3 separate regions of the Homo sapiens genome follow, and all the other regions are reported to be linked to region 1. The links are microRNA targets in miRTarBase. Many come from high-throughput screens and were not tested one by one. Region 1 holds a microRNA gene; each other region holds the end of a gene's coding sequence.
What was found. Region 1 holds the annotated microRNA hsa-miR-6885-5p (AGGGGGGCACUGCGCAAGCAAAGCC, at 3,189-3,213, shown strand). A microRNA usually pairs through its seed, bases 2 to 8, with sites in the 3' UTR of a target mRNA and lowers its output. Matches are read on the target gene's strand: a 7mer-m8 pairs with bases 2 to 8, a 7mer-A1 pairs with bases 2 to 7 and ends in A, and an 8mer does both.

Region 2: miRTarBase lists TMEM50A as a target of hsa-miR-6885-5p. Seed matches in the 3' UTR shown: 7mer-A1 at 1,908-1,914 and 7mer-A1 at 2,303-2,309.
Region 3: the mRNA of UBALD1 is a reported target of hsa-miR-6885-5p. The part of its 3' UTR that is shown has no 7-base or 8-base seed match.

The regions. Positions count from the first base shown.
Region 1 is chr19:6,385,887-6,392,886 of GRCh38, reverse strand. MIR6885 (microRNA 6885) reads left to right here and starts at 3,184; the gene lies at 3,184-3,249. GTF2F1 (general transcription factor IIF subunit 1) reads left to right here. Exons shown (of 13, transcript NM_002096.3): 2 at 1-30; 3 at 913-985; 4 at 3,250-3,443; 5 at 5,328-5,498. RefSeq lists an enhancer at 5,355-5,855.
Region 2 is chr1:25,359,713-25,366,712 of GRCh38, forward strand. TMEM50A (transmembrane protein 50A) reads left to right here. Exons shown (of 7, transcript NM_014313.4): 7 at 948-2,649. The coding sequence ends at 993. RHCE (Rh blood group CcEe antigens) reads right to left here. Exons shown (of 10, transcript NM_020485.8): 10 at 2,537-2,841. The coding sequence ends at 2,815. Among named protein-coding and RNA genes, the nearest start is that of TMEM50A, 25 kb to the left of the region's middle.
Region 3 is chr16:4,603,936-4,610,935 of GRCh38, reverse strand. UBALD1 (UBA like domain containing 1) reads left to right here. Exons shown (of 3, transcript NM_145253.3): 2 at 381-443; 3 at 953-2,052. The coding sequence ends at 1,303. Among named protein-coding and RNA genes, the nearest start is that of UBALD1, 7.5 kb to the left of the region's middle.

The DNA.
Region 1 (7,000 bases):
TGTCACTGAATACGTCGTTCGAGTTCCTAAGTAAGTCCCCAGCCCCATCTCCCACTCCTCTCCACCCCCCAAAAATGAAAACCTTCACGATCTTCTTAGCCAGCCATTTCTGGCCCTGTCTGTGGTTCTCCCTCCAGACCGGGAGAGACTTGGAGGGCAGGGCTGGGATTAAGCTGAGGCTTCTCTGGGGACAACACTGCTTTTTTGAACGAATGAATGAATGAGTGCATTAATACACGGTGATCCAGCCCCCTGGCCTAACCTTCGAGGAGTATATGGTCCCATGATGCCCAGGCCAGCTGTAAGGACATATTCCTCGTCCTGTTTCAAAGTGGTCAGGCTGTCTTTCCTTTCCAGGCCTTTGTACATCCTGTTCCTCTGCCATGAGTGCCTCCCCTCAACCCCTAAACTGTGACTCTGCTGGGTGAATTCTTGATGATTCTGCAAAACTCAACTCCAGTATCTTCCTCCTCCAGGAAATACTCCCTGCCTGTCCTCCCTCCTCCCCAAGGCTGAGTTCACAATAATCTCCACATCTTGGGTTCCCCCAAATCTTCGTCCCTCCATCTGCTCTTCTTCTGCCTGGGGTCAGGAGAGGATGGGTCTAGCTTCTCTGGCAGACTGGGAATCCTTGGAGTCTTCCGTATCCAGTGTTGCCAGGCAAAACAGGCTGAATGAAGCTGGGTGGGTTTGTTGAGTGAATTGAATTGAATTAATGATTCAATTGAATGGAATGATTGAATTGAATTAATGGTTCAATTGAATTGAGTGATTGAATTAAAGTAATGATTTGATTGAATTAACGATCCAGTTGGGTGGTTGATTGAATTAATGGTTCAATAGCATTGACTGATTAAATTAATGATTGAATTGCTGTATTGGATTGACACTACCTCTTCTCATCCACTCCAGGAATACAACCAAAAAATATAACATCATGGCTTTTAATGCAGCCGACAAAGTCAACTTTGCTACGTGGAATCAGGTAAGTCTCTGAGTCCTGGGGGTCAGGGGCTGGGGTGGTGAGAGAACTTGACCCTGACCTTGGTGGTTGTGATAGTTGCTTAACTGTCATAGTCACTAAGTCTTAATTTTCTCACTTTTCTCCAAGTGAAGAAAAGATAGATGACAAAGGGTTGGGTGCAGTAGTTCACACCTGTAATCCCAGCACTTTGGGAGGCTGAGGCAGGAAGCTTGCTTAAGGCCAGGAGTTTGAGACCAGCCTGGGCAATACAATAGCAAGACCCCAACTCTACAAAAAAATTAAAAAGTTAGTTGGGGCTGATAGCGTGGGTCTGTAGTCCTACATAGGAGGCTGAGGTAGGAGGATCGCTTGAGCCCAGGGGTTCAAGGCTGCAGTGAGCTATGATTGTACGACTGCACTCCAGCCTGGATAACAGAGCAAGACCCTGCCTCAAAAAAAAAAAAAAAAAAAAAAAAAAAAAAACGGAAATGGCAAAGGCCCAGGCCTAGCTCCTGGGTGTCCCTGTAAGTTAGGTTTGGTAGGCCCACCAGAGGCCTCTCCTTAAAGGAGAACATTTAGAAGCTGTGCCCACTGTTGGACATTTTTGGCCATGGTTTATCTGGGCAAGGGAGGGGACTGGGCTGGGGGCTTTCCCAGAGCCCCTGCCATCAGAGGCTCTAGAAAGGACTTTGGGAGCCATTAAAGCATCTTCAATTGGGAAGTTGTAGTGTGTGTGATCTGGCTGCTATGGGGAGACAAACTGTGGGTTTGAGGGCAAATAAACGGAGACCAAGGTAGAAGCAACTGGACTGGTCTAGGTGAGTCCTGGCAGGGCACTGGAGGCAGTGGAGGTTATGAGATGTGGCTGATTCTAGAGTGTTTTGGAAATGGTATATATGGACCTTAAATCAAGAGCTTAAGGGTAATTCGGATCACATTAGCCATGTAGGTCACGATAAATTGTTAATTTGTAGAGATTTTGGTGCCTTAATGTCAGCAAGTGTTGCACAATGAGTTTCTTTTTATTTATTTTATTTTATTTTTTTGTGATGGAGTCTCTTGTCATCCAGGCTGGAGTGCAGTGGCGCGACCTGGGCTCACTGCAACCTCCACCTCCCAGGTTCAAGCCATTCTCCTGCCTCAGCCTCCCAAGTAGCTGGGATTACAGGCGCCCACCACCACGCCTAGCTAATTTTTGTATTTTTAGTAGAGACGAAGTTTCGCCATGTTGGTCAGGCTGGTCTTGAACTCCTGACCTCAAGTGATCCACCCGCCTCAGCCTTCCACCATGCCCAGCCTTTTTATTTTTAGGAAATAGATATAGGATCTCACTATGTTGCCCAGGCTGGTCTTTTTTTTTTTTTTTTTTTTTTTTGGGGACTGAGTCTTGCTTTGTCGCCCAGACTGGAGTGCAGCGCCAGGATCTCGGCTCACTGCAAGCTCCGCCTCCCGGGTTCACGCCATTCTCCTGCCTCAGCCTCCCAAGTAGCTGGGATTATAGGCGCCTGCCATCATGCCCGGCTTATTTTTTGTATTTTTAGTAGAGACGGGGTTTCACCGTGTTAGCCAGGATGGTCTCAATCTCCTGACCTCGTGATCCACCTGCCTTGGCCTCCCGAAGTGCTGGGATTACAGGCGTGAGCCACCGCGCCTGGCCTTTTTTTTCTTAAGACAGAGTGTCACTCTATCACCCAGGCTGGAGTGCAGTGGCATGATCTCGGCTCACTGCAACCTCCGCCTCCCAGGTTCAAGCCATTCTGATGCCAGGCTGGTCTTAAACTCCTGAGCTCAAGTGATCCTTCTGCCTTGGCCTCCCAAAGTTCTGGGATTACAGGTGTGAGCCACAGCACAATGAGTTTCGATATGCATGCATTCTGGAGAGATGTGTGGAAATTCTAGGTACTTAGACATTTTTTGAAAAGAATCCTGGAACCAGATGCCTGCTGTAGATAATAGGGAAGTCTAATTAATTACTTCTACATTCCTCAGATAAGGAATTTTGCCTCCGATGGCCTGCTTGATGGTCACCAGGTGGTCTTTTTCTCTTTAATTTTAATTTGGAAATAATTTCAAGCTTTTAAGTTGCAAAAATAGAGCGCAAGGCTCGCCCAAATTCCCTTTACCCAGATTTGTCAAAGGCTACCGTTCTCCTCCCTTGTTGCCAAGTGGTAAGTTGGTTTTGAGAATCTAGAGCTTGGCCTAGGGCAAGGAAGGGCGTTCCTGGAGGGGGGCACTGCGCAAGCAAAGCCAGGGACCCTGAGAGGCTTTGCTTCCTGCTCCCCTAGGCTCGGCTGGAGCGGGACTTGAGCAACAAGAAAATCTACCAAGAGGAGGAGATGCCCGAATCGGGCGCGGGCAGTGAGTTCAACCGCAAGCTTCGGGAGGAGGCTCGGAGGAAGAAGTACGGCATCGTCCTCAAGGAGTTCCGGCCCGAGGACCAGCCCTGGCTGCTCCGGGTCAACGGCAAATCAGGCAGGAAGTAAGTGGTGGGGCGGTGGCGGTGCCGGCTTAGTGACCAGTCCACATCCCCAGGCCTCAACTTACATACTTTGTGGGGTACCCTCTCTGAACCTCAGATTCCCACTGCTGCAGTGGAAGTGCTGGCACTTCCATCCCTGTAGGATTTTATTATTTATTTATTTATTTATTTATTTATGTTATCTTATTTTACTTACTTGTATTTTTTTGAGACAGAGTCTTGCTCTGTCGCCCAGGCTGGAGTGCAGTAGCACGATCTTGGCTCACTGCAACCCACACCTCCCAGGTTCAAGTTATTCTCCTGCCTGAGCCTCCTGAGTAGCTGGGATTACAGGTGCCTGCCACCACCACGCCCAGCTAATTTTTGTATTTTTAGTAGAGACAGGGTTTCACCATATTGGTCAGGCTGGTCTCGAACTTGGCGATCCTCCCGCCTCGGCCTCCCGTAGTGCTGGGATTACAGGCGTGAGCCACCGTGCCCAGCCTACTTATTTATTTTGAGACAGGGTCTCACTCCGTTGCCCAGGCTGGAGTGCAGTGGTGCGATCGTAGCTCACTGCAGGCTCCAACTCCTGGGCTCGAGATCTTCCCACCTCAGCATCCTGAGTAGCTGGGACTATAGGCACGCCCCACCATGCCTGGCTAATTTTTGTATTTTTGGTAGAGATGGGGTCTTGCTGCGTTGCTCAAGCTGGTCTTGAACTCCTGGGGTCAAGTGATCCTCCTACCTTGGTCTCCCAAAGTGCTGGGATTATAGGTATGAGCCACTGCCCAGGCCCTGGGGTTGTGTTTTTGAAGACAGTTCACTGAGTTGGTGCTTGTGCCTGGCTCTGAGGCAGCTCTGAGTGCCACAATGCAGGAAGCTTAGGTGGCCAGCCCTGGGAGCTCATGACACTTGAGATGACCTCTCAGAGGGGGCAGACTGAGGGCAGAACAGGAGGGGTCCAGGTTAGGTTGATGAAGGGTGCTCCAGGCACAGCAGTTGGGTGATAGTGACAGACACAGGCAGCTCACACAGGGCAGTGGGTGCCAGGATGTGCTGGGTCCAGCGGAGCCTTGGAAAGCTGTAGGCAGGGAAGAGGCACTCACCCAGACTGTCCGGAACTTTGGGGTAGAAAAGAATGAGGTAGAGGCCTCAAGGAGGCTGGGCAGTTGTTTAGGCTTGAGGAAATGGTGGCCCGGGCCAGGTGTCCACTTCAGATTTGGCCATGCCATGGCTGGGCGCGGTGGCTCACGCCTGTAATCCTAGCCCTTTGGGAGGCAGAGGCGGGCGGATTACGTGGGGTCAGGGGTTCGAAACTAGCCTGGCCAACATGGTGAAACCCTGTCTCTACTAAAACTACAAAAATTAGCTGGGTGTGGTGGCAGACACCTGTAATCCCAGCTACTCGGGAGGCTGAGGCATGAGAATTGCTTGAACCCGGGAGGTGGAGGTTGCAGTGAGCTGAGATGGTGCCACTGCACTCCAGCCTGGGTGCCAGAGCGAGACTCCATCTCAAAAAAAAAAATTTGGCCATGCCTTCCCGCCCCATCTTCTCACTTGGCTCCTCAGTTTCCCGGGTGTGGCCCACAGATAGCAGAGCTGGAGGCAAATGTAGACAGTTTGACTGCAGGGTTGGGCTCTCCTGAGATAATCTCACACAGTCTTTCCAGAAATGATCCCGATGTGCACACGCCCAGCACTTTGCAGGGTAGGTGCGCCGGCCCTGTTCCCCAGATGTGGAAATTGACGAGGCCCAGGTGGTTGAAGGGCCTGCCCAGGCCTCATGGGCATTTCTTGGTCTTCCTCCTATGGCAAGTGCCATAAAGGAGGCAGGCCCCGGGGGGACACGGGGGGGCTGGGGCTGGTCCCTATGGGCCAGGCCATGACCGTGGCTCCCTGCAGGTTCAAGGGCATCAAGAAGGGAGGCGTAACAGAGAACACGTCCTACTACATCTTCACCCAGTGCCCCGACGGGGCCTTCGAGGCCTTCCCCGTGCACAACTGGTACAATTTCACACCGCTGGCCCGGCATCGCACGCTCACTGCCGAGGAGGCCGAGGAGGAGTGGGAGAGGTGAGTGGGCTGGGTGGTGGCTGGGGACAGAAGTGAGGGAAATGGGGTGCCTTGCCATGGATATATCACCAGGCCCTGTGCTGGGAGCTGGGGACTCAGGGGTAACCAGGGCAGACCCCACTCGGCCGTCTCAGAGCTGTCAGTTCAGGAGGAAACAGATAGGAGGCCTTAGGGCCACAATGGGGCACCCCAGAGGGTGCTGCCAGAGCCAGAGTCTGTGACCCGGAGCTCAAATTGGCAGAGCAGGGTGGGGTCTAACTGCCCCCTTGGCTTTCCGCAGGCTGCAGGTCACACAGCCTGATCCACTGCAGGGCAGCAGCTCCAGGCAGGGCACCCGAGGAGGGTTTCTCTAGCAGTGACATCGGCCTCAGAGGTGGGGCGGGTGCAGTTAAGGGCTGTGGAGGGACACAGTGCATGAGGCCAGTGCAGAGTGACTGTGGGCAGGGGGACGAGGCTGGGGGCCCAGAGCACTTGGTCTTGGATGTATGGCTTTGGATGAGACCGTAGGGCCACCACCACCCTAGGGTGCTTGCAGATGGTGGGGAGGGCACTCTGGACGCATCTACAAATGGCATTTGCACAGGTCACAGATGAGCAGATGCTCAAAGAGTCGATGGCTCCCAAAGGTTAAAAAAACACCTTTTTCGGCTGGGTGTGGTGGCTCACGCCTGTAATCCCAGCACATTGGGAGGCCAAGGCAGGCGGATCACGAGGTCAGGAGATCGAGACCATCCTGGCTAACACGGTGAAACCCCGTCTCTACTAAAAATACAAAAAATTAGCCGGGCATGGTGGCGGGCGCCTGTAGTCCCAGTACTCGGGAGGCTGAGGCAGGAGAATGGCGTGAACTGGGAGGCGGAGCTTGCAGTGATCCTAGATGTTGCCAGTGCACTCCAGCCTGGGCGACAGAGCGAGACTCCGTCTCAAAACAAAACAAATAAAACACCTTTTTCCCTCTTTGGTGTTTTTTTGTTTGTTTGTTTGTTTGTGTGTTTTTTTTTGAACTGAGTTTCGCTCTTGTTGCCCAGGCTGGACTGCAGTGGCGCAATCTCAGCTCACTGCAACCTCCGACTCCTAGGTTCAAGCAATTCTCCTGCCTCAGCCTCCCAAGTAGAGAAATGGGATTACAGGCATGCACCACCACGCCTGGCTAACTTTGTATTTTTTGTAGAGACAGGGTTTCACCATGTTGGCCAGGTGGTCTCAAACTCCTAACCTCAGGTGATCTGCCCCCCTCAGCCTCCCTAAGTGTGGGGATTACATCCGTGAGCCACCACGCCCGGCCTGTTTTAGTTTTGTTGTTTTGTTTTTTTGAGACCGAATCTCGCTCTGTCACCCAGGCTGGAGTGCAGTGGCGCGATCTCAGCTCACTGCAAGCTCCGCCTCCCGGGTTCATGCCATTCTCTGGCCTCAGCCTCCTGGGTAGCTGGGACTACAGGCGCCTGCCACCATGCCCGGCTAATTTTTTTCTATTTTTTTGGTACAGATGGGGTTTCACCGTG
Region 2 (7,000 bases), not on the chromosome of region 1:
ATGCCTCTTTCCCCTTTGATGTACTGTTTCCTGTCCCCGAAACACCTGCCTTCATCATCCCGCTAGGTCTTGTTCCTACCAATCTCCCATTCAAACCCCTGTTTTTCCACAAAAGCCCATCTCACATATTACCACCTCTGTAAATCCTTTTCTAACTTATTCAGGGTGACCGAATTCTGTGTTTCTGTGCCCCCTTAATACTTGTTATATAAGTCTCCTTCCCCAACCACCCCCACACTTACCACATCACGTTAGCAAGAATGAGAGCAATTTGAGGGCAGTGGCTTTGTATCTTATTTATAGCCCTGGCACCAAAACAGTTTGTTGAATGAATTTGATAAAATCAGACGTATAGGGCTGGGCACAGTGGCTCACGCCTGTAATCCCAGCACTTTGGGAGGCCGAGGTAGGCGGATCACGAGGTCAGGAGATCGAGACCATCTTGGCTACCATGGTGAAACCCCATCTCTACTAAAAATACAAAAAATTAGCCGGGTATGGTGGCGGGTGCCTGTAGTCCCAGCTACTCAGGAGGCAGAGGCAGGAGAATGGCATGAACCCGGGAGGCAGAGCTTGCAGTGAGCCGAGATCACGCCACTGCACTCCAGCCTGGGCGACAGAGCAAGACTCTGTCTCAAAAAAAAAAAAAAAAATCAGACATATAATGGTTACATAGTAAACACTGGTAACTTTTTAAAAGTCACATGTGTATTCAGTACTTGAAAGTTAAGGTTGTTGGGAATATGGTGGTTAATAGCACAGTTGAACATAATGGAAGAATTCACTACCTTAGAATGATCAGTTTCTGTTTTGATACATTTCGTACCAAAATTTCTTCTACAACTCATCAATTATTCTTCGTTGTTTGTTTCACACCATTCTCGAAATCTCACATACTCTTTTCTCAAATTCAGGGAGTCATGTGATATTTCTTGTTTTATTCACAGAGGGCTGGTTTTTAAGTTTGGCCGCACTGAAGACTTATGGCAGTGAACACATCTGATTTCCCACAGCACAACAGCCCTGCATGGGTTTGTTTGTTTTTTTACTGCTCACTCCCAACCTTTTGTAATGCCATTTTCTAAACTTATTTCTGAGTGTAGTCTCAGCTTAAAGTTGTGTAATACTAAAATCACGAGAACACCTAAACAACAACCAAAAATCTATTGTGGTATGCACTTGATTAACTTATAAAATGTTAGAGGAAACTTTCACATGAATAATTTTTGTCAAATTTTATCATGGTATAATTTGTAAAAATAAAAAGAAATTACAAAAGAAATTATGGATTTGTCAATGTAAGTATTTGTCATATCTGAGGTCCAAAACCACAATGAAAGTGCTCTGAAGATTTAATGTGTTTATTCAAATGTGGTCTCTTCTGTGTCAAATGTTAAATGAAATATAAACATTTTTTAGTTTTTAAAATATTCCGTGGTCAAAATTCTTCCTCACTATAATTGGTATTTACTTTTACCAAAAATTCTGTGAACATGTAATGTAACTGGCTTTTGAGGGTCTCCCAAGGGGTGAGTGGACGTGTTGGAAGAGAGAAGCACCATGGTCCAGCCACCAGGCTCCCTGTGTCCCTTCCATGGGAAGGTCTTCCGCTGTGCCTCTCATTCCAAGGGCAGGAAGATGTGACTCAGCCATGACACGTGGTTCTGGTGGGATGCACAGTCACTCCACATCCACCATTGAAGGAAAGGAAAAAAGGGCAGAGACTTGACACTCCAGTCTTAGACAGGGGACAATTTCTTTGTAGTTGTTCTGATAATAAACTGGGTTCCATGTTGCATTTCATCTGTGTACTGAACCACTAGCCTAATAGACCAGCACGGTCAACTAGAATGACAAACATTAGCTACTGGGAACTCTTGTTGTCTCTTCCTCTTCAGAACTCTTGTCCCCCCAGGCTCCCCACCTCTGCAAGATGGGATACACTCTTCAGGACCACAGTTTGAAATGTCTTTCATAAAATGTGCTACAATTAGCCTTCGGAATATTTGCTGGGTGATTTAAATGTGTGGGTCTCATTTCCATGCTAGCCATGGTCATCTGACAGTCTCTACACTGTGAATATTGCCTGGTGATCAAGACTCTCCTCAAAGAAATGACTTGCTGTCATCCCACATGAACTCCTGATGTTTTTTCTACAAAAGTCCATAAAATGTGAAAACTGGAGAAGATCTTAGAGGTTGAAGCCCACCTTCTCTTTTCACATAGGAGGGAACAGACCATGGAAATTTAAACGACTTCCTCACGGTCACAGAACTAGTTTTTTAATCCTCAGGCAGTGCATCCCCCCACCCTACAACTGAGCACAACCTCTTTCCCCACAGTGCAATTCAGAATATGCTCAGGGAATGCCAGCCACCTTGTAAAACTGCTGGGAGAAAAGCATGATTCCCACAAGGACTAAGTATCAGTGATTTGTAATTTTCCTGTTTTGTATTATCTGCTTTGCTGATGTAGACAAGAGTTAACTGAGTAGCATGCTTTATTAAGCATGAGAAAGAATCTTAAGAATTGTCAATAAAATTAACCCAAAACTTTAATAATGTGTCTGTAACCAAGAAAATATTGATAGCATCATCCTAATGAAACTAAACATTTATTTTAAACTTATTAAATTGACTCTTAAACTAAGTTTTTAGTCTTTAATTTTTTAATATCAAATCTGTCTCTGACCTTGTTTCATTATACATAAGGAGACTTTGCTGTCATGAGCGTTTCTCACGTACAAATGCAGGCAACAGTGAGAGGAAGTTGTCTTGTTTTTGAACAGGCCTTGTTTTTCTTGGATGCTTTTGCTTAAAATCCAACAGCCAAATGAGGAAACTGTAAAAGCAAAACAAACATTTTTATTGCAGATGAACCCACATACTGATTTTGGCTTGATCTCTTGAAACAGCCTAAATGTCTCATTACAAAGACCTTAGAAATTCTTTCATAAAATCTGAATTGGAAGAGATCTTGGATATATAGGTTTTATTTCATCTAACGTTTTACATGGATTGTTGATAAATGGCCATCTGGCTTTTATTTGAATGCCTCCAAAGACAGAGGACTCACTACTGCCATATGAAGTAGCTCATTCCATTTGGCAGACAGTTGAGATTGTTAGAAATTTATACTGCACCTCCCCTGGGCCTAGTTAAATTCTTTGGAGAAGTGTAGAGAAAAAGTATTTTTCTTCTACATGCCAGTTTTTTTTTTGGTTTTGTTTGGTTGGTTGTTTGTTTTGTTTGAGATGGAGTTTCGCTCTTGTCTCAGGCTGGAGTGCAGTGATGCAATCTCAGCTCACTGCAACCTCTGCCTCCCGGGTTCAAGCAATTCTGCCTCAACCACCGGAGTAGCTGGGATTACAGGCACCCGCCACCATGCCCAGCTAATGTTTGTATTTTTTAGTAGAGACGGGGTTTCACCTTGTTGGTCAGGCTGGTATCAAACTCCCAAACTCAGGTGATCCACCCGCCTCGACCTCCAAAACTGCTGGGATTACAGGCGTGAGTCACTGCGCCCGGCCTACATGCCGGTCTTTCAAGTGTTCGAAGAGCCTTCTTAGGTCTCCTCTGGCCTTCTCTTCTGCAAGCTGTGCATGCGCTGAGTTCTGAAGTGGTGCCACACCACAGCCTACCATACAACGTCACTGCATGTGGCATAAACTGGGACCACAGAACTCTGAAACCGGAAATCAGGGTAGCTAACACTTGTTTGCTAACATTTCACATACATTATCTCCTTTAAACCCTAACAACACAGTGAGACAGTTACTGTTATCTCCATGTCAGATGACGAGACTGAAGCTACAAGATCACAGAGCTGGCAGTGGTAGAACCCAGATCTGTCTGACTCCAGAGCACAAACTCTTAGAACATGGGATTTGATCTCATTTTATAGAGGAAGAAACTGAGCCCCAGAGAAGCGACCTGCCCAAGGGCACCAGCCTGCCAGTGGGTGAACTAGGACTAGAATTCAGATCTGCCTCCCAGAACACTGGCCCTCACCGAGGCTAGGGGAGTCTGTTGGCAGGCTGCTGATGTGTTTTCCTAGTTTACTTTTTTTTTTCTTTTTTTTAATATATATATTTTTTGAGACAGAGTCTCCTCACTCTGTTGCCCAGGCTGGAGTGTAGTGGCAAGATCTCAGCTCACTGCAACCTCCCCCCAGGGGTTCAAGTAATTCTGCCTCAGCTTCCCAAGTAGCTGGGATTACAGGTATGCACCACCACACCCAGCTAATGTTTTTGTATGATTTGGTTTTGTTTTGTTTTATTTTGAGATGGAGTCTCCCTCTGTCCCCCAGGCTGGAGTGCAGTGGCACGATCTCGGCTCACTGCAACCACTGCCTCCCCAGTTCAAGCCATTTTCCTGCCTCAGCCTCCTGAATAGCTGGGACTACTGGTGTGCACCACCACGCCTGGCTAATGTTTGTGTTTTTAGTAGAGACAGGGTTTCACCATGTTGGCCAAGCTGTTCTTGAACTCCTGACCTCAAGTGATCTGCCCACCTCAGCCTCCCAAAGTGTTGGGATTACAGGTGTGAGCCACGGCGCCCGGCCTGTTTTCCTACTTTAAAAGCTGGCTCTCCTTGTGTTGTTGAACAAGCGTTTGTTGGGCCCTTACTGTGTCTCTAGAACATTTATTTGAAATCAGAAGTAGGGGTGATACCACTGTGACAAGAGTAGATTTTTAAAACTTCGCGTAAAACAGCAAGAGGGACTCAACACATTTTGTTATGTTTTTGTACCAAAACAGTAGTGTTTATCTTTCTTGGCAATAAAATCATTTTAAAAAATAAACTGCAAATACTCATTCAGAAGCCAATGGATGATCTTCAGCACATTGCAGTTATTTCAGAACTCGGCCTACATGCTTAATTCGATCACTCTGCTTCACTCTCAAACTTTCATTGTAGGCATTGCTTCCCCACTCAAACCTTTGGGAATTTCCCATTTGCCTGAAGGATGAAATTGAAGTGGCTCTAGCCACCTTTCAGCCTTTTCACACACTGCCGAGCCAGGTTGCTCATGCTGCTTCTGTTCTTGCAGATGCTCCCCACCTGCCCCCCTCCTCTTGCTTGGAATGCCTTGCACTTCCTGCTGCTTAGCCAAATCCAACACAACTCCATGCTCCATTGTCCCCGACCTCCCTATGACCTCTCCCTCCTCTCATTCCAGCAGCTACTGCCAGGATTGCTTGTTTCGTATTTTACATTATTTGTATTTATTTATTTTTTGAGACAGAGTCTCACTCTGTCGCCCAGGCTGGAGTGCAGTGGCGCGATCTCAGCTCACTGTAACCTCCGCCTCCCGGGTTCAAGTGATTTTTCTGCCTCAGGCCCCTGAGTAGCTGGGATTATAGTCACGCACCACCACACCTGGCTAATTTTTTATATTTTTGGTAGAGACGTGGTTTCACCATATTGGCCAGGCTGGTCTTGAACTCCTGACTTGAAGTGATCTGTCGGCCTCAGCCTCCCAAAGTGCTGGAATTACAGGCGACCAGCCAGAATTAGTTTAAGAAGTGCATGTCAGTGAGCCCTTGTGTTTTGCAAAGCATGAAATAAAATCCATGGTTTATTAAACTGAAATAAAGAAGGGAACTGTCTATTCTTTTAATGAAAGCAGAAGACACGTGAAAGATTGTGTTATAAACTGAAGTTTTGGCCGGGCATGGTGGCTCACGCCTGTAATCCCAACATTTTGGGAGGCTGATGTGGGCAGATCACCTGAGGTCAGGAGTTCGAGGCCAGCCTGGCCAACGTGGTGAAACCCTGTCTCTACTAAAACTCCAAAAATTAGCCGTGGTGGCAGGTGCCTGTAGTCCCAGCTACTTGGGAGGTTGAGGCAGGAGAATCACTTGAACCTGGGAGGCAGAGGTTGAAGTGAGCCGAGATCACACCATTACACTCTAGCCTGAGCTATAGAGCAAGACTCTGTCTCAAAAAAATAAATAATAAACTGAATTTTTGTAAATAAGTATCTGGTGAGGACCACTGTAAACTGCAGGAGGATAGGAGATTAGCATATCTGGCTCCTTGAGACCCATAACTATATTTTATTTAGAATTATCTCTCTGGTACTTCACATCGTGTCACAAATTAGGTAATACACGTAGTGGAATGAATTAGCAAATGATGAGTGCATTTTCATAAACCTTCGGAGGATGAGATGGGTGCCCTTGGGGGGTGGTGAGTGCTCCCTCCCAGAAGTGCCAGGCGTGGTCTGGCCAACCAGCGAGGCAGTGGCTGAGCTGGCTTTAATGTCTTTCCAATCCTGGCAGTCAGTTCTATGAAATTCAATGAGTATTTAAAATGTCTTGTTGGATGGTTTGCAAAAAAAAAAAAAATCACCCCTGGATTTATCAGCTTAGCAAGTTTGCATCCTTGCCTCTTTAATGGATATTTGGCTTTCAACTGCAAGCTGAGAATGGTACACTGCCGAATAAATGGTCCTACTCAACTGCGAGAAAACAAGTCAGAAGATTTCTGGGGGTGGGGTGGGGGTGGAATAACTTTTCTCTAGTAACTGTAACCAACGCATATGTGGGGTGTCTTTGGAGCCAAAAGACATCACATTTCTTCTTTTCTATGCATTAGTTCTGTCATTTTGGGCAAGTTACTTAATCTCTCTAGGCCTCCATTTCATCATCTTCAAGACTGAGATACTTACTTTTTTTTTCTCTTTTGAGACATAGCCTTGCTCTGTCACCCAGGCTGGAGTGCAGTGGCGCAATCTCATCTCACTGCAATCTCCATCTCCCGGGCTCAAGCCATTCTCCTGCCTCAGCTTCCCAAGTAGCTGGGATTACAGGCATCCACCACCACGCCTGTCTAATTTTTTTTTGTATTTTTAGTAGAGACAGGGTTGCACCACGTTGACCAGGCTGGTTTCAAACTCCTGATCTCAAGTGATTTGCCCACCTCGGGCTCCCAAAGTGCTGGGATTATAGGCATGAGCCACCGCACCTGGGCGACATACTTACTTTTATGCAGGA
Region 3 (7,000 bases), not on the chromosome of region 1:
GGAGGTCTGGTTGGGCTACCTGGGGCCGGGCGCCTTTCCCCCAGGATGGGGTGTACTGCCCGCCCTCCCCCAGTCATGGTGCTGGTGCCAGCTGGTGCAGGGGGAGGGCTCTGCAGGCCTTAGGCACTGAGGCAGGTGGCGAGCAGCAGGGGAAGGGTCTTCTCCACCCACCCCAACTGCCCAAGGTTCCGTGGCTCCTCCTTAGACAGCAGTGAGGGTTGGGGGTGACAGGCAAGCCACTGAGCCTCAGCACCGCGACTCACCCCTCCCACTCAGCAGTCCAGCCAGGGTCATCCCCAGCCTCAGAGGAGCCTGGGAACAAGGGCAGCGGCAGGGCCGGCGGGGGCCTGGAGGGTGAGCAGGGGCCTTTCTTCCTGCAGACAGCCCTCAGCGCCTTTTTCCAGGAGACCAACATCCCCTACAGCCACCATCACCACCAGATGGTAAGTGTCCCCGGAGTCCCCAGTTCTGGATTGGGCGGAAGGAGGCCGAGCTAGTTCTGTGTATAAGCAGCCCCTGGCCCCGGTGTACGAGGGCGCTGGTGCAGGCGGGGCTCGACCTCTTTGGAGATGGGTCAGCAGGAGTCCCGGCTCCGTGGGTCCTGCACTTAATCTTGCCTGTGCCAGCTCCCCCTGAGACCTGGGGGGCGCTGGCCTCTGGGGCAATGAAGCTCCTTACCCTACAGCCCCCGGGGATGCTGTGGCTGATGGAAAGGGGTGGGCTGGGAAAGCCTCGTGGCCCCAGGCACCGTGGGCTCCTGAGAGTGAGGCTGGGTCGGTTCATCTCAAGGCTTCTCCTCTGGGAACCCCTGGGCGGCGGACAGGCTTGGGGATCTGGGGAAGGAACACAGAGCCTTCCGAGAATGGGCCAGCCACGCATCTCCCCTTGGGAGGCAGTGGGGGCCCCTCCAGGAAGGGGTGCTCACCCCATCTCTCCTCTCTTCCCCTCACAGATGTGCACCCCCGCCAATACCCCTGCTACACCCCCCAACTTCCCTGACGCTCTCACCATGTTCTCCCGTCTCAAGGCCTCCGAGAGCTTCCACAGCGGTGGCAGCGGCAGCCCGATGGCCGCGACAGCCACGTCACCCCCGCCACACTTCCCCCATGCCGCCACCAGCAGCTCTGCGGCCTCCAGCTGGCCCACGGCGGCCTCGCCCCCGGGGGGCCCACAGCACCACCAGCCACAGCCGCCCCTGTGGACTCCAACACCCCCTTCTCCGGCTTCAGACTGGCCACCCCTGGCCCCCCAACAGGCCACCTCAGAACCCAGGGCCCACCCTGCCATGGAGGCAGAGAGATAAGGGAGGCCCCTCCCCCCTCCCGGAGGCCAGGACCCCGTGGGGCGGGGGAGAGGACGTCTCTGCGGGCCCCCTTCACCCCTTTTCTGTCTGCACCCCTTGTTCCCCGGAGCCCTGGAGGGGAGAGCGCGGACTCTAGCCAGGCAGGGACACGTCTGGTGCCAGAACACGCAGCTGCCCACACGCAAGGTCATGGCCCCAGCGGCCCCGGCACATGGAGTGGTTCAGCGCGGCCTGGGTGCCTGGCGGACAGAACTTCAGAGACCACGCAGCCTTCCTTCGAAGACGCACCTGCCCAGCCCAGCCCAGGGGTGCCGTGGAGGACCACCCTGGCAGAGACATTGCTGATCCCTGGCTTGGAGCTCCTTGGGGGCCGGCAGGCCTCGACCCCCACCCTAGGGAATGCAGAGCCTCTCCGCATGTGTGCGCGTGGCCGTGTCTGTGTATTTCTACGTGTGTCGCTCTTCAGAAGCAACCTAGTTCCTGGGGCAGCTGGACTTTGCATGTTAGTGTGAGCCCCCAGCCCCCTGCCCGCCGCCCCCTCCCCAGGGCCCTGCCTCCTCCCCACCCCCTCGTCAGCCAGCGTTGCTGTTCCTTGCAGAGAAAAGGATTGTGGGAAACTCCAGGACTCTTCCCACCGCCTCCCAGCGCCTGCCTGCTGGGGCTGCCTGCATGCCTCCCCTGCACCTGGGGGTACCCGCATCCACTTCCTTTCCCCCTTTTAACAAAAGAGAAGAACGAATTCCAAACCACTGCCAGGCTCTGTGGTCTTACCTTGTATACGAGGCTTGCTGCCAGCTGGTTCTGGGGGCCGCCGCCCAGAAGACAGGGCCACCCCGAGCCTCCCCGGCTCCACACTGCTGCCTGTAGCCCTTGTCAGCCACAGCGTGCTCTGGAATCTTCCTGCCCACCCAGGGCTTTTCCTGTGAAGTTAGTTCCTGGCCTGGGTCCCCATCCTGTCGGCCCACCCCTGCCCCTGCTTGGCTGGACAGATCCCGGCGCCCAGTTAGGAGTTCGCAGGGCTCACACCTGCCTTCTGTTGTCCTGGGTTTCATCTCAGGACTTTTCTCGGTCTCGGCTCCAGTGGCTGGGCACAGGCTGGACCCTCTGAGCCCGGCCTCCAGCACACACTGGGTAGGGCAGGGCCTCTGGGCAGAGGGCAGACAGAGCCAGGGAAGCTTGCAAGGGGCAGAGGACGAGGCAGGGGACAAGGATGGGGCGGAGTGCTGCCAGCAAAGGGGGCACAGATGTTGGGTCACTTAGGAGACTGGCAACCCGAGGCTGCCTGGGATGAGCTGGAGCAGCTTTGGGAGAATGCACCCTCAGCCTCACAGCTCCCCAAGAGTGGGCTTGGACTTGGGGCAGAAGGGAGACTGGGGCCTCTGCAACACCCCCACGGGACTCAGCTCACAGCTCCTCAAGGGCAACACCCACTCTGTCTAAGATAGCACCAGCCCCTGGCGGAGGCCCTGCCGGCTGGGTGGAAGAGCATCTTCTCTTTCTGAAAGTCCCGTGCTCCCCTGGCGTCCGACACTCCCCACTGACCCTTCCTGGCTCCCAGGGATGTGACTGTGCCTCTCAGGAAGCGTGCCTCGGTGCTCTTGCCACACCAGTGCCTGGCTTCATCTCCTGGTTGGAACCTGCAGAGGCTGTGTTGACAGAGCCCACCTGGGACAGCTGCTCACTGGCTGCTTGGCACTGGCGACTGGCTGCTGTGACCTCCGCTCAAGCCGCACTTGCTTCCCAGGAATGGGCCCTCCCAGGAATCTGCCTTTGTAATAGCCTTTCGGAGCCCACAGGACGGGTGATCCTGGCCAGCCAGCTAGCCCCCTGCATCCGCCTGGGGTGCCTGGGTAGCAGGGGAGGGAGAGAACGTGGCAGGAGGAGACGGGGGGACATATCTGGCCTCCTGAGTCTTTACTTTGCAGCTCCTCGATTCTTTGATATGGAAAAAAAATTCTCAGGAAACTGCCATAGCCGCCTTCCAGTGGTGGGAAAAATGCTTTGCAGAGAGAAGTGTTTTGGGGTAATCTGCAAAGTGGGGTGAGTGCCCCTGGACTCTCCCACCTCACATGCTGAGGTAGCTGCACGTGCCCGCCATGCATGAGGCAGCGCTGTCCAGGACTCTGCACAGTGTGAGGCTCGTGAGTGCTGTGTTTTTGTTTTTGTTTTTTGAGACGGAGTCTTACTCAGTCACCCAGGCTGGAGTGAAGTGGTGCCATCTCAGCTCACTGCAACCTCTGCCCCCCAGGTTCAAGTGATTCTCTTGGCTCAGCCTCCCTGGTAGGTGGGACTGCAGGCACCCTCCACCACGCCTGGCTAGTTTTTGTATTTTTAGTAGACACGGGGTTTCACCATGTTGGCCAGGCTGGTCTTGAACTGCTGACCTCAAGTGATCCACCTGCCTTGGCCTCCCAAAGTGCTGAGATTACAGGAGTGAGCCACCGCGCCCCGCGGGGAGTTCCATTTATTAAACACCATGAGCCCTGGGGTGGCCTGTAGTGAACCACACCCTCACTATTCAAGGCATGGTTCGGACCCCAGCATCAGCCAGGAGCTTGTTAGAGTGAGGCTGCAGCCCAGACTCCCCGAATCAGAAACTGATTGAACAGGAGCCCCTGGTTCCAGATAGACATCAAAGTTTAGGAATTGTCCCTACACTTCATCCCTACATCGTCACTAATACCGGGGAAACTGTCCCACCACCCTCATTTCTGTTTCTGGGGGCCACTGTGGGCTGGGCCTGGGGGTCTCAAGTGGTCACATTAAGGACGGGAGAGACTTGAGGTTCCTGCAGGGCTGGCTTTTTCAGCGTGGTCACTGTTGACATTGAGGGCTGTGTTATTGTCCTGCAGTGGTGCTGAGCAGTATCCCTGAGCCCTCCCCACTGAATCCAAGGGCAGCCCCCTTATTAGGACAATCGGAAGTGTTTGCAGCCAGTGCTCATGTCTCCTACAGGCCACCATGGTCCCAGTGGAGTGCCTCTGTGCTAGTTCTGTGGCTCTCATACCTGGCTGCACAGCAGGTAAAATAAAACTGGCAAACCACAGGTTCGTTGGCCTCATGCCATCAGACTCTCTGGGCCGAGGCCGAGGCCGAGGCCCTGACGTACAATCGTGGAAGCTCCCTGGGTAGATGATGGTGATTGATCTGTGACTGTACCAAAAGCCACTCAATGGCATGCTTTAGAAATGTGGACGTTCTGGTGTGTCAATTATACCTCAAGGCTGTTATTGAAAATAAAACAGGCTGGGCAGGTGGCTCACGCCTGTAATCCTAGCACTTTGGGAGGGTGCAGCGGGGGGATCATGAGGTCAAGAGATCGAGACCATCCTGGCCAACATGGTGAAACAGCCGTCTCTACTAAAATACAAAAAATTAGCTAGGCGTGGTGGCGGGCGCCTGTAGTCCCAGCTACTCGGGAGGCTGAGGCAGGAGAATCGCTTGAACCCAGGAGGTGGACGTTGCAGTGAGCAGAGATCGCTCCACTGCACTCCAGCCTGGAGACAAAGCAAGACTCCACCTCAAAAGAAAAAAAAAAAAAAACAGAAAAAAATGAAAATAGCTCCTTTCACATATATTTTTACGTGCCATCTAGTCATGCCCCCCACATCGTGAGTGGGAGCCTGCAGACTCGATCCCCGGACTTCCAGAGCACAAGCGTCCCCTGGGTGCTTGCTGAACACCCACGTTCCCGGCCTCTCCCTTGAGGCAGTTGTTCTGGAGGAGGGTCAAAGAATCTGATTTGTGTTTTAGAGATAGGGTCTTGCTCTGTTCCCCAGACTAGAGTGCAGTGATGCAATCATAGCTCACTACAGCCTTGAAATCCTGGGCTCAGGTGATCCTCCCACCTCAGGCTCCCAAGTAGCTGGGACTACAGGTGCACGCCACCACACCTGGCTAATTTTTTTTAAATTTTCTTGTAGAGATGAGGTCTTGCTATGTTGCCCAGGCTGCCCTTGAACTCCTGGCCTCAAGTGATCCTCTTGGCTTGGCCTCCAAAAGTGCTGGGATTACAGGCGTGAACCACCTCACCCAGCCCCAGATCTGATTTTTAATAAGTGCCCCAGGCCAGGTGGGAACCACTCCCAGTGGGAGCAGTCTGGGAGCCTTGGGGAGGGCAGGGCTGGGGCTGGGGCTGGCAGTGCAGGTGTTTTCCGGCAGATGCAGAGGCCCTACCAGGTGTGCTTGGAGCCCTTGGTCGCAGGGGCATCTTACAAAAAGAAGGGGGCTGTGCACGTGGGCTAGGACTAACTCTAGGGGAGCCAGAGGTGGGCCTACGAAATCACCACATGCCCCAGACCTTGAATGTGACACAAAGAACCTGGAGCCTCCCATGACTTCTCTAAGCCTGGAAAATCGAAAGCAAAACCAACCGGAGGCCAGACACGGTGGCTCACACCTGTAATCCCAGCCCTTTGGGAGGCCGAGGTGGGTGGATCACCTGAGGTCAGGGGATCAAGAGCAGCCCTACCAACATGGTGAAACTCCATCTCTGCTAAATACAAAAACTTAGCTGGGTGTGGTGGTGCATGCCTGTAATCCCAGCTACTCAGGAGGCTGAGGCAGGAGAATCGCTTGAACCCAGGAGGCAGAGGTTGCGGTGAACCGAGATGGCACCACTACACTCCAGCCTGGGCAACGAGCGAAACTCCGTCTCAAGAAAAAAAATCAGGAGAGTTTATGGGAAAAGCCTCACTTCCGACTTATCTTGGAAACTGGAAGATTTGGTGCAAATTCCCTTAAGGCCATAACTGGCTGAAACTGACCATGGCACTGGGGACACGGCGTGGCCTGCCCCTGCCAGCCTGCTCTACGCCACCACAGCCATGCACGAGTCCAACTCCTGCGTGGGAATCGGCTGGAATCCCTGGAGGGGGTCTGTCTTTTCACCACGGGGAGCTTCAGAAGTAAATGCCCTGTCCAGTGGGGTAGGATGAACGGCGGTGGGCAGGGCTCCCCCTGGAAACGGCCGTGAAAACAGACGGCTTGTTCTGCAAGATGCTCTCGGTCGAGAGGGACTCACCAGGGGCTGCTGAGTGTCCCCAGGGTCTTTGCAGCGGTCCAGCCAGGGTTCTCTGAGAACACCCTGCGGTCAGCCACAGGGAACCAGGCTGTCTCCGAGGCTGACTGCGGGGCTGGGTGGGGCTGCTGTGGCCCTGGAGGTCTCTGAGGGGCTTTCACAGCAGTCCCTGGCACAGGACAGATGAGTCCTTTGACTCCGGTCTTCTTCCCCGAATACGGGAGACCTCCTAGGTTGGCCGGAATGGAGTTCTTTTGACACAAGGCTACTTCTAATTCCTGCGTTTGGAAAGTTCTCTGGGTTTTTGAGCACTGCTCATATTTGGACAACGGATGTATTTCAACAGAGCCTTAAAAGAACACGGCTGTTTTGGAGGTGAGGGGCTACCGAGTCCTTTTAGGGAGGGCAGAAATTGGGGGCCCCTTCCAGGATGACCAAGGACTTGTCAGTGGCACAGCACTAGGCACCGAGGAGCCTGCTGGTGAAATTCTGCTCTGCTTCCCGGGGTCATCTCTCATCTCCTGGGGAATTGCAAAGCCACGATCTTGATGGAGTCATTTTGTCCTCATCCCAGTGGAGCCACGAGCAAGGTGAGGGAGGCAGAGGAGAGAAACCCTTGTCTGCCGGTTGTGTGTGTGGAAGGTCTCTGCTTAGAGCTCGCACATCCATGGAGAGTC